Linked DNA regions of Homo sapiens: region 2 is linked to region 1. The links come from fine-mapping of genetic effects on gene expression. A gene starts in region 1. The other region holds a variant in brackets. All regions are shown on one strand. Distances are between the middles of the regions. Region 1 holds the start of VEZT (vezatin, adherens junctions transmembrane protein). Region 2 overlaps VEZT (vezatin, adherens junctions transmembrane protein).

The links. PIP is the estimated chance that this variant, and not a neighbour inherited with it, causes the effect.
Region 2: its variant is fine-mapped to the expression of VEZT in CD8 T cells (CEDAR, PIP 0.95).

What each region holds. Positions count from the first base shown.
Region 1 is chr12:95,215,457-95,219,855 of GRCh38, forward strand. VEZT (vezatin, adherens junctions transmembrane protein) reads left to right here and starts at 2,351. Exons shown (of 12, transcript NM_017599.4): 1 at 2,351-2,430. The coding sequence starts at 2,395. It overlaps FGD6 (FYVE, RhoGEF and PH domain containing 6), which reads right to left and starts at 2,011. Exons shown (of 21, transcript NM_018351.4): 1 at 1,769-2,011. The coding sequence starts at 1,784. RefSeq lists enhancers at 1,675-2,269, 2,270-2,865, 2,330-2,569, 3,170-3,219 and a silencer at 1,870-2,099.
Region 2 is chr12:95,298,405-95,302,803 of GRCh38, forward strand. It overlaps VEZT (vezatin, adherens junctions transmembrane protein), which reads left to right. Exons shown (of 12, transcript NM_017599.4): 12 at 1,761-4,395. The coding sequence ends at 2,269. Among named protein-coding and RNA genes, the nearest start is that of MIR331, 7.8 kb to the right of the region's middle. The variant G/A (reference allele first, on the strand shown) is at 2,214.

The DNA.
Region 1 (4,399 bases):
GAATGGGTAGAAATAAAACCCCAGTTCTCTTCCATATTCCCCATCTAGACACCAGAAAGAATTATGATAAATCCAACAGATGGGTGAGCAAAAAAGTAGTTGATGCTTCTCAGCCAGCAATGCTAAAAACCAACCAACTCGGCTAGACACAGGAAGTGTCCCACTTTAAACACCACAAAAATTTCTGTGGATTTCTTTAATTGTAAAGTTGATAAAATACAAAAATAGCTTGCATTATTTTAGGATAATTCAAATGCAAGAATCATGAACTTCCAGTCTGGGCCCTAGAAATTGGGTTTACATAAATGTGAAATTACATGCTTCTGTGCCTGTTCCTTATAAACTGTTAAGACTGGAATTGAAAACTGATACATATAAGACACGGTTATTTTAAATACATTTGACACCTCCAAAAAGGAAAGAGCTAAAACTGGCTGGAAGGATTTTAAAATTTCCAACCACTTTTAATTTAAATCAATTTCTTGAACGAAGGTAAGGCACAGAAATGTAGGATGAAAATAATTTACCTTATGTAAGTATAAAGCCTCCCTTTGGCAAAGAAAAGAGAGTTTATAAAGATATCTCATATAAGTGCATATAACATCAAAAAGGAAAGACCCACACAACACCCACTTCTTGCTTTCTTTTCCTATTGGCTAACTTCTTGTTTCGTTTGTTGTAATCTGATCACAGGGAGCAATGCAACACTACAATATATCTAGGCTTTAGAAATAATACAAATCAGAACATTTGAGTGCTGTTGGACAGTTTCAAGTTGCAAGAATTTTAAACAAATGCCAAGAAAAGCAATGAAAATTTAATCTGATACTTAAGTGCTGATTCTGGAAGTAACCTTGAGAAGAAGCTTTAAACTATTTCACTATAAAATTTCTAATGAAAGTTTCAACGTGGACAAAAACGTAAAATAACCCATAACACTCTACTTAATACATAAGTTCTGGTTTAAAAATTAACCTATGTACTTACGAAGTGAACGTAACACCACTTTGGTAATTATTTTGTAAAACAGAAATTGTTCCTTAAGAATGTTCAGAAACACAACGTCTAGAATTGCTGAAAATCCACACAAAGATAGAGGCTTTGTCATTTGGATGAAGGGGAAAGAACTATGGGAGGCAGACAGAAAATAAAGCTTTGTTTACCCTAATCAGGTAGAAACAAACAAAATAATTGTAATTGGGTGCAGACAAGCAAAAAAAAAAAAAAAAAAAAAACCTCAACAATCTCAACTCCTCTGCTTCTCAGGTAACAGAGGTAAAACCACCAGGACATGACAATGTCTACGCCTCTTTAAAATGGGTAAAAGGTTTACCAGCAGATACAAGGTTGAAAGCGACTCACTTAGTGGCCAAATTGAACACGCTGAGAACACTGCCTTTACCTATAATAACTGATCTATTAACTTGGGAATCTACACTATTTTCACATGCAAAGGCGAAGTCCTCGCACTGCTGGAGAGATGAGCGAACGCCCTTCACACATCGCATTTCACCTGGTGCAGAGCCCCCAGCACAGTCCCCCTTGGAAGGGAGATCCCGAGAAATCCCGGGTTTCCAAACAGCCCCTCTGGGCAGGAAAAGACGAGAAAGCCGGCAGCGAATCCCATTAGCTCCGCGCTTGCCGAGGTGCTCGGCAAAGGTACGGGGCACACAACTCGCCCACCCCGGCGAAGAAAGTTGCTCGCGAGCCCAAGCCTAGCAGCGCTCGCCACAAACTTTCCCGCGGCAGCGCGAGCGCCGTCACTTACCGGCTGCAGAAGTCATGATTCCCCGGTGCAGCTCGCTTCCCCGCTCGGCCCCTCAATCCATCTTCCCCTTTCAGTCCATTGTTCCCACAGTTCGGGTAGGAGAGAAAAGCCCCCGCAGCGCCCACATTCCGTCCCGCCGCCCCGCGGCGCAGCCTGAGCGCCACACAAAGGACGCGGCCGACTCTAGCGACCCTGCGGCGCTCCCGGGCGCGAGCCGCCGGGGTCGGGCGGGCGAGCACTAGCACCGCCCCGCAGAGCGGCAGGCTGACAGCCAGGCGCGGGCACGAGCAGTGCTCTCTTCGGCTCCGCTGGCGCGTGCCCTTCTCGGGCTCCAAAAATCAGCAGTGCTCCGGGCGCCCCCTGCTAGTCGCGGCCGTAAAAGGCAGACAAAAGCCCTAGCCTCCTCCAATCGGAGGGCTCGAGCTTCAGCTCGCTCCCGCCTCTCTCGCTTACACGCTCACTCTCTTCTCCAATAAGCGGGCTCGAAAAGGGGGCGTGAGCGGCGAGGCATATTGGGAATTGTAGTTTTCTGGACCCACGGGACGGGCAGGAGCTGGAGCTCCGTGCCGCCTGTACTCCCGCCTTCATTTCCCATCGTGCTGAGGCGGGTGGCATGGCGGAGAAGGATGACACCGGAGTTTGACGAAGAGGTGGTTTTTGAGGTAAGAGGAAAATGGCGGTGGGTGTGGATTGCCTTTGTTTGAGAAGGACGAGACGGAAATCGAGGAAGCAAGGCGTTCCCGGGGCGAGGGATCGGGTGACGCGCTCCAGCTGGCCTCGACCACCGAACCCCAGCGATTTCAGGGCCTAGAGTCCGTCGTCGCCTGACAGGTGTAGCCAGAGGCGCCCTGGCCGTGGCCGGCCTCTATCTCGGGCCCGCCCAGAATTCCCAGACGGTGCCCGGTTGCCAGGCTCTGGGCTGGAGCGGTGTCTCTTCCTTCCTGGGAATGGATGTGCGGCGGGGGGGACTGCGCCCGGCTGGGGCGGGGCCGAATCGTGCCTTTTAGATAGTCACAACTTAGCCTCCTCCTTTTCCATCCGCGATTTTTTTGGGTCAGTATCCAGAGTGCTTCAGGTCACTGTTCACCGTCAAGGCGTGGCCCTCGGAATGAAGGCAGCAGGTGCCCGTTTTCTAACACGGTTTAAAGTCTATTTGTGGGACCTACTGTGGGTAGTTAGGGCCAGGGCATCTCAGCATCTAGATTCGATTCTTTTGTCCTTTGCTGTTGCGCTAGGTGTAGCCAGTTCTTCTGACTCGGGGCTCTAGATGTGAGTGCTTTTGTGTGGGACTATTTTAAGACGTTCTCTGCCATCTTGAATGAAAAAAATCGGGCGAGTGTTTTTGATGCCATTTTTTTCCATCAGACACAGGTCAAAACTCGCACCCCTGTACGTATGTGTATTGCATGTATACGCTTTACTTTCATTTATCCAACTAGATTTTAAGAAAATTTAAAAATGAAGTGGCCCATGCCATACAGCGAGAGAGCGAGGCACAGACAGGACAGAATGCTAAATGTTGAAATATGTACAAACTGTCATTGAAGGATTAATTTCTGTTCTTGCGGCCTCCCAGAGGCTACACCCAGTACGCGATATCCGAGGTGAATCTTTAACTATGAATTGGATTAGAAAAACCGGCAGGAGAAAATGTATTACAGGGAAAGAGAACTGATTATGCCAAGCTTGGGAAGTGTGAAAGTACCTGGTGTGCATTTTTAGGGGGCGGGGTGTGGAGGGTGGCTATGTAAAGTGGCTTGATGTGGCTGCAATGAAGAAGCAGTGGAAAATGTGGCCATTTTACCGAAGTGAAGAGTCTAGATATGAGGCGTTCATTAGGGAAGACAAGGGCCTGAGATGAAATGAGAGACGTAATGGAATAATGGCTTGGACAGACACTTGTAAGTTAAAATCGAGGCAATGTTTATAGATTGAATGTGGTAGCTGAAGGAGAGAGAAATATTTTCTAGAGTAAGGGTAACTGATGGGTGTATTTTTTTTACCCATTATTTTTGATTTCTGAATATAATAGTAATATATGCTCAAGGAACATTTTATTGTAGAAAATAAGCCCCCAAGTTAAAATCATCCATTATCCCACCACCCAAAGATGGTAACTATTAACAGTACGGTATGTGTTCTTATAGACTTTATTTCTATGTAAATGTGTGTTTATGTGTGTGTAATTTTTTAGCCTCTATATTAAGACACAATGTGTGTGTGATATTTTTTAAAACAAAAGGTATACCACGTAGAATTTTGTATATATTTTTCACTTGACTTTATCGTGAATCTTTTCCCATTCATCATTCTCTGAAAACATTAATATTATAATATCCCCTCACGTGTATCATAATATAACCTTTTTTTAAAAAAATACCATTGTAATCAACAGTGATATAAGCCTATTTTTAACTACAACTCTGATTTTCCTCAGAATAATTTTTAGAAGTAGAACTAGTGGGTGAAAGAATATGAACATTTAAGACTTACGCAGAAAGGTTATACCAATTCCGGTTTCCATTAAGAATAAGAGAGTATTGGTTTCACCAAATCCTCAACAACAGCCTTAACAGTTTCCTTTAATCTTTGCTAATTTGATAGGCAAAAATAACATTCCATTGTTTTAAT
Region 2 (4,399 bases), 83 kb after region 1:
ATACATCAGAGATTAATTTTAGGCACTGTTGTTTTCTATATGTTCAGGGTTTTGTTTTGTTTTGTTTTGTTTGTCTCTGTAACAAAATTACAGTCTTCTTAAATAGGGGCCTTATTATCCCACAGCATTCATTCAGCAAATTACTCATTCAACAAGTAGTTATTAGGTACTTGTTATATGTCAGGCACTGTTTACTGCTGTATCCCTAGCGCAAAGATCAAGAGACAAAATGTAAAGCCTCCTACCTGCCTCAAGGCTTAAATTCTAACACACTCGTCAATTGATCCTCTCATTACTCAGATTATATCCACCCCATTTAATTAGTAATAATTGTGAACTATCAACCAACTTCTAATATATGTTGCTTCCTTTAAGAGCTAACAGATTTATAAACTAAGAATGTACATATATTGAAAATAGCATTGTATATAAACTTATATCCTTTTTTATTGTTTAGTGTTTCTTCATATAGCTTTAAAATTATGCTATTGACATTATGGGAAAGATTTATCAATGAGAGAAATGTGTCTCTTTTTCAGGTATGTGCTTTTGATATAGTTTACATTGGAAAGGGTCATAATGCTGTTTTAGTTTGTGAAAATAAGTAAAAAGCTGCTGATACCATAGAATGCTTTTCCCATGAAAAATTTCAGTACATCTTCCAGAGCTGTTTTCATCTCTGCCTACAGGGGTAAAGTCCGCATGGAATTAGAGGGGGAAAGTCTGCACTGGAACCTGCTGTGGCCATTTTTTTTCTGTTGTTGCTGCTTCTCTAGTGGAGTTACTGCAGCTTAGGGATGGTTCCTGGAAGTGGACACATTTTACAAAAACGTTTTTTAAATACACGCCAGCTCTTCGAGAAGCACTTTTTTCCTTCCGTCATGCTTCATACTATATTGTATTGTACTAACCCCTCATGCTGGGATGAGCGACTGCCTAGCAAGCAACCCACTGCCTACTAACATCAAGAGGGGCTAAATAAAACTGCATTTTCCTTGCAAGGACAACTTCTACCGTATGAATATATATTATATTTATGTATTATATTTTGTACAATAGTTGATCTTGAATGCAGACTTCATTTGTATTTTTCGTGGTACTACAAAATGTGTAGAAGTTATGGCTTTTCTTTCATTAGGGTCTTGTTAGGTGGTTGGCAAGTAAGTTAAATTGTATGTTGCATTTTTTTCCATGCTGTTTTAACTTGTAAATATATATGTATACATATGGAAGATATTATTATTATCTAGATTACTTTAAGCCTTTTATCTGATGTATTATCAGTGAAAACCATGCTGCTTATTCCCTAATACAATGGTTCTCAAACTTTAGTGTGTATCAGAATCAAGATGAGGGCTTGTAAAATATAGCTGGTCCCTACTCCCAGAGTTTCCATTTCAGGAGGTCTGGGATCAGGCCCAAGAATTTGCATTTTTAACAAATTCCTAGGTGATAACTGATAATGTTGGTTCAGGGAACACACTTTCAGAACCACTGCTTTAATATTTTAAATAAGATAATATGTGAGGTGTCATAAAAACCTTCATCAAATCCCTATCTCATTTCATTTCTTAGGCATTTTCTCTCTTATAAAGTTTCCTGGATTTATAAATTTTCATTGATTTTACTAGAAAGTTTTATTTAGCTTTTATTTATTTATTGTTCTTTTTAAGAAAAAAACTGAGAGTTTGAATTAAAAGTTTAAATCATTGCTAGGTCCTTAGTTATTTTTTTTCTTTTTTCTTTTTTTTTATTTGAAGCCGTGTTGAAATCCTTGTCTCCTGTAGACCCAGTGGAACCCATAAGTAATTCAGAACCATCAATGAATTCAGATATGGGAAAAGTCAGTAAAAATGATACTGAAGAGGAAAGTAATAAATCCGCCACAACAGACAATGAAATAAGTAGGACTGAGTATTTATGTGAAAACTCTCTAGAAGGTAAAAATAAAGATAATTCTTCAAATGAAGTCTTCCCCCAAGGAGCAGAAGAAAGAATGTGTTACCAATGTGAGAGTGAAGATGAACCACAAGCAGATGGAAGTGGTCTGACCACTGCCCCTCCAACTCCCAGGGACTCATTACAGCCCTCCATTAAGCAGAGGCTGGCACGGCTACAGCTGTCACCAGATTTTACCTTCACTGCTGGCCTTGCTGCAGAAGTGGCTGCTAGATCTCTCTCCTTTACCACCATGCAGGAACAGACTTTTGGTG[G/A]TGAGGAGGAAGAACAAATAATAGAAGAAAATAAAAATGAGATAGAAGAAAAGTAAGAACCAAGATTCATATGAAGTGATATTAGATTGTTCCTTTTACAAAAGTGTTTAGCTTCAAGACTGGAAAGGGAATATGAGTGTAAGTTTACTATATATAAAGCTAAGATGTGGATTTACAGGAAGAACCCTGGTTTGAATAACTGATCTGAAATTAGTAGTTACCTGTAAATGGCAGATCTTTTAGGAAAATAAGAGAAAGGTAAGGGCTCTTTTGAATAAACTGCTGTTTTATTTGTGGCACAACTGATCAATCTTGGAAATTCTTTAAGTATTTTTAATAAGAAATGAATTATCATTTCTTGCCAGAATTTGCTACCTTAAGGTGATTGGGAAAATTCTGTTGCAAGAACATTAACATTTAGTATGACTCCTTTTTACTGTATTCTTGCAGTTAATAACTGCAGCTATTATGTTAATAACAAGTTGTTTGTATTTTATTTTTGTTTATACCAGTCTTAAAGATCCAGGTTCTGAATAAAAAAATTAATTGATACAATTGATGTGTGCTGGGGTTTGGAACTAAAAGTAGTTTCAACAGTGCGTGGGTTATGACATTTCTTATGTTTCTTTGTTCATGTGTGTATTTAGTAGTTAATTTTAAGATGTCCTAGTGATCTTTAAAAGAAAAATATTGTACCATTTTTTAGAATTACACTTTCACCTTTCTTTTTGCAATTGAAAGTGATGATGTCAAAGTGGGATTTCTGTACTCCAAGGCCCCACCCCCAATTTAGCAAGCAGAAAAACGTTCCTTGTATCACTTTACCTTGGATAATTGGGTGCCATTAACACAAACAGGTCACAATCCTGCTGTTTTCTAGCCCTGTCCACCATAATGAGATTCAGGAAACATCCTGTCAGCCTCCTGGAAAGCATCCTTGTCTCCTTAGTATTTCATTTACAAACTACCTCTTAACAGAGACTGCTTTTCAAATTGGCCAATCTTACCTGTTTTGTGTTGTGATTGCATTTTCAAAGAGTAATTATTTTCAGCATATACAGTTTTGAAACCTGTAGCTCCTATGCAATAACATAGTTCTATAGACATTATTTGGGGGAAATGTAGTAATAACTCAATCTATGTTGCTGTCCTAGAAAGGAAATTGCATGATGAATCTAGATTGTCTTTAGAGTAAAGAAACACATTCAAATTCCTGTAACTTATCACTTTCAGTGAGTAAATTTACTTATACCAAAGGGGATTTTTTTTCTTTCAGGAATCTAAGGAAATTTACTTTTTAACCTGAGAAAAAAACTTGGTTCTGCTTTATATAAACAGTAGAGATTATTGTACTATAAGTGATTTTGCCTTTTTGCCAAAATCCTGGAACTCATCTATAATTAACCTCTTCGGAGCAATACCTTAGGTTGGGCCTTGCTTTACTACTTAGAAATAGCTAAATTTCAATTTTAAAAATCTTTGTGTGTTATAACTGTTAAATTATTCAATAATACTTAGGGTTTACTTTCTTATTTAAATCACTTATTTAGTTTACCGACTTCATTTTTCTTTGGATTTAGAAGAAGCAATTATGGAAAAACTTGGTAATCTCTCTCAACCTATAACCTTACACAGGAAGAATTAGAGTTTAATAATTTTTAATTCTTTTATTGTATGTTACTTTTATTACACCAGTTTGGGGGAAAATCTTCATAAAATTGTATCAGTTTTATTCAGTGTTCTCTAAGGTGATACCTTTTAATTTTGAAAGACTAAATAATTTTAATCGAGAATTTCCAGTCTTTCAGTCTGATCTATTTAATTCACTACTTGTTACATAATCCAGTGAAAACTCTACTTGTTGAAATTATGACATAAAGATCTTGCAGCTTTATTTGAGTATTTGTTCTTTTGTGTAGTTTCCATCTTTTAAAATATTTAAAATATTTTCAAGATAAAGTATTATCTTCTCTGCAAAAATTCCTGGAGTAATTTTCTCTCATAATATTTGAAGTCAGTGGTTCTCAGTTGTATTAGTGGGGTAACTACATCAAAATAAATAAAGTCTTATTTTTAAAATGCAAATTTTAGACCATACTCCCAGTGATTCTTAGTTGGTCTTTTTGGAATGAGCCATAGGTAATGTTTATGTCCAATAAAATCTAGGAACCTCTGTCTGGAACTTT